Linked DNA regions of Homo sapiens. The protein of the gene in region 1 purifies or fractionates together with the protein of each later gene. This does not show direct contact. Each region holds a gene or a part of one and is shown on either strand. Other genes may lie near its edges. The genes, in order: SMAP1 and B3GALT2.

Region 1 (3,838 bases):
TAACTACTAAGGAGTAAGAAAATTTTAGGAAGTAAAATAGTCTAAAATTATCCTATAAACTTTGTATGATAGATATTATTCTCTATTAAAATCTTATATACTTCCTAAATATTTTTAAAGTGGTCATAAAGCATTTATTTCTCTCGCTGATCTAACAACATAAACATCTAAAATTTATTTTCATTGTATGCAATAAAGCATAAGATTACATGTATTTTTCTTCAAGACTGGAGTCAAATATATATATATATAAGCATCTTAACCCTGTGATTCTCTTACTTCCAAAATTGGTGATAAGAGAAGGAAAGGCAAGATTTACCATATAGTGAGTGGGTTTAAAACTTACACTCAGAGTTAGACTGTGTTCTTAATTTAATACATTTGACTTGACTTATTTACAGTTTCAAAGACACTAACATAAACTACATCACTAATCAGGCATAAGTGTCTGAAGAAGCAGATCACGTCTTCATACCTACTAAAGGACATTTTAACCACCTTGTCATTGGCCAGTAGATTGCACTGATGGAGTGCTGGAGAACAGCATCACCCTTCTGCATTATCTGGAAGTAAGAGCCAGTATTAACTCCTTCCTGGTTCATCTAGCACCTTAACCTGAGCTGGGTGTGCTTCAGCATGTTGACCATGTGACTGACACTTAGCACATACAATTTTTTAGATTCCCAGCGGGTAGAGACCAATGTTTTACCTATATTCTTGTAAATGGTGGTAGCAAAATTAACTGTGATATATAGTGATTGTGCTAATGTTAGAAATCACTCTAGACTATTCCCTGAATGCTCTAAAGGTAAAACAAGTGACCAAACAGAAACCAAGATTGCCAAAATGCTGGAGGAACATCAATGGGAAGTGTAAAAGGAAGAAGAGTGGGAGCATGAACCTCTCTAAGAGCCTTTGTCTGTGCAGCTAGAGAAAAGTCAGAACACAGCACCTGAAATAGAAATGTTCTATCTCAGCTCTAACTTAGGTAGAAATAGGATTTTATAATATGAGGGGATGTCTGGTTCACACCTTATGGGAATTGAATCTTTTTGTACTCTTTTTAAACATAAAAGTCATTATAGGGTATGTAAAAAGAAAATACAACTTTACAAAGGTTTCTCAACAAAAAGAATTTTTACAGAGCCATGGGGCAGTAATCATCCGACCTGAAAAATAGCCTTAGATCCCTCATAAAATAGTGCTTTGAGAATATGAGGCTAGATTTTTATTTTCTAATAAAAGATCCTAAAATTATTAGTGAAGCTAAGTTGTCTAAGTGGACTGTAAAAATGTCCCACCAGCAAGCTGGATAAAGCTTAGTGCTAATCTCAGAGGTGACAGAGAGGGAGTCTCATGATGCCTGAGATAATTTCTGGCCATTAGTGGTGTTCACGTTACAGTTACATTACAATTTGAAATGAAAGATGTTTAACCTTTTTTTTACAGAATACTCTAAAATAGCGATAATAACACATCATTTGTCTATCTGATACAACTTCATAATATTTATAGATACTTTTGACCCTATAACATATTATCCCTATTGAATTCTTTCTGCCAGATCACTAGACTTAAAAAAAAAAAAAAAAAAAAAAAAAAAAGATTTAGAAAATAAATCTGGTTTGATTTGGGAGAAGCTAGAAAGTAAATGACCCCTACCTGTGAGAGGCTCCACTGGGGCTGCTGAGCTTGCGGCAGGCCAAACTTACTCTGGGGTGCACCCATTTGTCCCACCATTCCTCCTTGGGGGCCAACAACGTTCTGAGGAAGTGGCATCACACCAGTTTGTGCATTTCCCATAAACCCATTGGGCATGGGCATGCCCACCATCATGCTTGGACTCTGTCCCATCACATTTCCTATAAGGCCAGGAGCTGCAGGCACAGGCACGCCCATCGATGGAAAGCCCTGAAATGCAGCTGGTGCTTGTGAGGTAAATGGTATATTTGTGGGTCCCATAAATACACCTGCACCACAAAAAGAAAATGAATGAAGACAGAGCTATCACGTGTAGTTGCACTCATCTCTATAATCACAGAAAAATTGCCTTTCTGAACTACTCACAGCAAACATTTTAATTCCAGTTTGGCTGCTCCTACTACTCAGACCAACCCACACCTAAACCCTGAGAGCTGGTTGTTTCTAGGATGCAGACAAATCAGTTATTAACCTGAGTAAATTTAATTAAGAAATGTAAATCATATGCAACAGCCACACAAAATATCTTCCACTGTGAAGACCAAACTATGTAGCATGACATCATACACTGTTTTATTGCTGATTTGTACCACTGGTCCCCCAGTACGAAACAGGGAAGTGAGAGCTGACTATATCTCGCTTCAATAGGTGTAGTGGGCTGCCCAACAATTTTAGCTCACATGTGAAATGCAGCTCATTATTTTAAAGGAAATGGTGTGAAAGATTAAAACTCTGTAAACAATAAGGCTTATGCTAATATTTTGTTATGATTACAAAAAAATTCATAGATTTTTTTTAATCCATGTGGTAACTCAAGACTGTTTACCTGCAGAGAAAATACACTGTACGCAGTCATAAACTTCATGCAAATCGTTTCAATAATTCATCAAAGATAATCCATGTTCTATAAGCTTGTGAAACAACATTTAGTGATCTATGAACAGCTTGTTAATTCCAAATAAAGTTCTGTGAATCCTGTACATGCCTCTTAATTTTTTAATTCTAATGCTCATTCATTTCGGCTTCATAGTTGTATAAACTGCAACAACAAAAGCACTCACTACATGGAACAATAAAAGATATATAATTGATCTTATTATATAATTACAAAGGATGTACTTCTAGTAATGTCACTGAAAGCAGATATCAAAATTCATTACCAGGAGTACTTTGCTGTTGAATGGTTCCTGTGCCATACAGAGATAAGATGGAGTCTTTGGAAAGTTGTTTCTTTGCCACTTCTTCTGATTTTGTAGTTTGCTCAGTGAATAAATCTAGATCCCCAGATGTTACTGTAGACAGGGTTGCAGCTGCTGGTGCAGAGGGTGTCCCCTGAGACAAACACCAAAATAAGCTATCAAATTCTGCATAGTAAAGCGCAGCTTATCCATTACTTAAAATCCAAATAAAGTTATAAAATTAGATAGGAATCAAACAATTGTAGAAGGTAAAATGGTGCCATTCAAGAGGATCACTTACAAGCCCAAGCCCATATAAAAACATCTACAATCAAGACAGTACTTCTTAATTTGAATCTGTTAATGTAGGTAGACTGAAGCATTTTCACAGTAAGTTGCATTTACTACCTAAGGTGACACCAAGTTTTTGCTCATCAAATCCTGGGGCTCAACAATAGTTAGAGATGAGAGGACCACCACTCCATAGCAACTACTGCTTCAAGAAACTGGTATCCTTTGGAATAAAGAACATTTCTACAACTACAACAGACTGTAAGAGGATTTGCAATGGCTACTTAAAAGGTTTTATCTTTTCAAAACCTGTATCATAGGATTTTTATACATCTAATCAGTTTTAACTACAATATTAGACTGCTTCTAATCTATCCAGAAATGAAGGTACAGCAAAACTTTGACCATCTATTGTCTGAACATATCCTGCCCTTCACTTTTGGACAAGGGGGCAAATGAACACAAATACAAATAAACATGTAGATATTTAATATAAAATATTCTCAATCTCATATCTTGCACACACTATTATACAATCACAACTGCTAACCTTAATCATCTCCGTAGTCACTAAACATTAAATCACATTCACATGTTATATGGACTTGTTTTGAATATGAAGAGAGTTTCAAAGAATTCTATGAAGACTAGTAAAAGCTGGCTGATCC
Region 2 (3,030 bases), on another chromosome or scaffold:
TACCTATTAACACTTTGAACATAAAGATTAGTTATTTGTGTACCCTTTGACCAAAAGCAAAGCTGTCATTTAAAATTATATTTTTATGTATATAAAAATCACATAGTGTCGGGATGAAGAAGACACAGTTAACAAGTGGTGAGATGTTTATATACACTATCAGCTTATTTTGCTTAAGAAAACGACTTGAGTATTGTTGCGGAAAAGTCAAAAGTAAATTAATAGAATATTTATTTTAAAGTAAGGATTTTCAACAGTACAAAGACACTTTACTGTTTGATCCAGTCGCCTTTGAGAGCTCACAGTGTCTGATATCAGATTACTATCGTTTTTCAAGATAATGTTAGGAATATAGAAATTTACATAGATTTTATAAATTTTATAGATTTTAAATTGAAACTTGAGATAGGAAGAATTTAGGTGTCTGTTATCTGTTTTTCATGAGTCATTTTTTAAAAAACTTTTTCCAGATGGAAATTACTATCTTTTAAAGATCCTGCAAAATAGTCATAATTTGGACAAATAGAACTTGAGTTCTCTTTCTATGTACACACCTGTGTATGCACACACACACACTGTTTTTAAAACTTTTGAAGCATAAATCAGCATTATTCTACACTGAGGGAAGGATTCCTTTTGTCTTCTGTCAAACATGCTGATCTGATTTGGTATTATCCCCTTATGTGTGACTTTTATTAAGTAATTCTGGTATTTCTGTAGTCATATAGAATAAATTAAGTGAAAGACAGGCTTGATCCAAGAGCTGGGGTGTGTTACATAGATCAGCTCTCAGAATCACTTGATTTAGAGTAGAACACTTAGGCTACTGATTTGAAATGGAGATAAGCACTTAAACAGTTTTAGTGTTTTCAAGTTTCACAAATGTTACAATTCTCTTCTGGTGATTTATCCCTTAATAATAGAATAAGAGGTAAAAATGATTGTTATTAGAATTAAGAAACATTCTGACTAAATTAAGATTGACAGATTTACATACTTGTATGGAATAAAAACACTATTTTAGTTAGTAGGTTGGTATTTCTTGATTTTAAAATTCATGATGGAGTCAAACAAAATTATTGTGAAAATACTTATAACACTCAGTAAAGTTTTTTGTTTTCCTTTATTTTTAAAAACTTCATAAAAGTGCATTGTATACATTGTTCATCCTAGAATTGTGTTTGTCAAACGTTTGTAGTTTTCCCCATCCCTCCCAAAAAGGTTTTTAATTGGTGATTCAGAATATTTGTCATCTACCAAATTAAAAACTGCAGGTTTGCAAACTTGGCACTCCAAGAAAGAAATAGGTGCCATAAAATGATTAAGTGTTGGCATGTGTACACCTGCTGTCAGGAAATAAACTTCCCGTATGTTGCATTTTGGCAGACATGCATCTTAAAAATGTGTTGAATGAAACTGCACCTGCACTCTTTATCTTTTTCAACAGTACATCCTATTTGTGCCTTTAAGTGATTACTTTTGCTTCGATTATCTTTACAGATATATTCGAAGTTAGATATACATGAAATTAAATGGTGGTGCTGTTTAAGAGTGCAGTAATTGGTCTAATCCAATAACTCATTGAAATAGGAGTTTGGTTCTTAACATCAATGAGGAAACAAAACTTGTCTATTTTGAAACATTTAATAACTATAAAAACTTGAGCCTGAGACACATTAGTTTTTCACATTTTACCACGTCATGTCAAAATAATTTTCCCCCATATATTAATAAAAGAAAGTATTAATAAAAGAAATTTAAAATAATATCTCAGTTATTTTTAAAAAGTAAATACTTTCGTGAGAACTGCATTGATGAAACATCTGAACTTTATAATGTGTTTGTGGAATAACTCAACTAAATCTTATTGCATTTAGAACCCTAAAATAGGTCAAAAAATTTATCCTTTGCACAATTAAAAAGTTTCCTTAAAATTGATAGTGATGTTTTATTTACATTAAATTATATATTAAAATGAAAAGCTTAATCTAAAATGAAGGATCTTTTGACTGTCATTTCTTGAATTAAAATTTATGTGGAAAACATATGCAGATACATTTTATTGGCCCCTAACAGAAGACTTGAACCATTGATTTATGCATGCTTGTTATTGCATGTTAATACACAGAATCTCCTTATACAGTTTTTTAAATAGATTGTTTTGGGAAACCTTTTTTGTTATATAATGTTATAGTTTTAAGAATTAACTTCTTCAGAAATTAAAAAAATACTTCTTGAATTTCTTTATGTGATGAGTTTTAACTAAAACTTGTCCTACGGATGTAATCAGTTCTAACTATACATGCTTTTAGCAATATTTACAAATTGCACATTTGAAAAAAAATTGTCTTTTCTAATGTAGTTTACGGTGGCGATACCTGCCTGCCTTTTCTTTTGCTGCGTTGGCACAGGCATTGTGCTTATTTTGTTGTAAATGGTTCCAGTATTTTATCAGTTCACTAGGCTGGAACTGATGAGAGGTAATTAGGTGGCTGTATTTACAGCTCGAATAAGAGACTCGCCAGTGATTGAACACAAACTCATTGGGAGGGGGTACAGGATCAATTCTCAACTTGGCAAGACAGATCCCTACATATACATCTTCCAAGTGCAAACGGCGGATACCTAAAGAAACTTTAAAAATCTTTTCTGCCAGATCTCCAGAAAAAACATAACCAGTTCCAGAACAGAAGACAGGATAACGCTCACTTGGGTAGAGGTCTGGTGGCATGTACCACTTGCTATCTTTGTTTCGATTGGGTGCATATCCTCGCATTAGGTAACCAGTGAAATAGTTATGTCTGGGAGGCAGATCTGGCTTCAGTAACTTATTGATTAAATATTCAGTGTTGACAAACATGTCACTGTCAGTTTTCATAACATATGGAATATGTGGACAGTATGTTGCAACCCAGTTCATGCCCATTAGTGTTTTAATGGTCAAATTATAGTACGTATCTAAGTATTCCTGTTGAATTATATCATGATATTGTCTGCTTTCTTCCAGTATTGCACGTTGAAGGTAGCCAT

What was found.
Region 2: the proteins of SMAP1 (region 1) and B3GALT2 purify together in Homo sapiens (co-immunoprecipitation; one large-scale study listed by IntAct). This does not show direct contact.

The regions. Positions count from the first base shown.
Region 1 is NC_000006.12:70,856,054-70,859,891, reverse strand, and holds part of SMAP1 (stromal membrane-associated protein 1), read right to left. Parts: intron 3,214-3,838; exon of another isoform or gene 3,034-3,213; coding exon 2,862-3,033; exon of another isoform or gene 1,971-2,861; coding exon 1,663-1,970; exon of another isoform or gene 564-1,662; coding exon of another isoform or gene 462-563; exon of another isoform or gene 1-461. UniProt on the Homo sapiens protein: GTPase activating protein that acts on ARF6. Plays a role in clathrin-dependent endocytosis. May play a role in erythropoiesis.
Region 2 is NC_000001.11:193,177,941-193,180,970, forward strand, and holds the end of B3GALT2 (beta-1,3-galactosyltransferase 2), read right to left. Parts: coding exon 2,354-3,030; 3' UTR 790-2,353; downstream 1-789. UniProt on the Homo sapiens protein: Beta-1,3-galactosyltransferase that transfers galactose from UDP-galactose to substrates with a terminal beta-N-acetylglucosamine (beta-GlcNAc) residue. Can also utilize substrates with a terminal galactose residue, albeit with lower efficiency.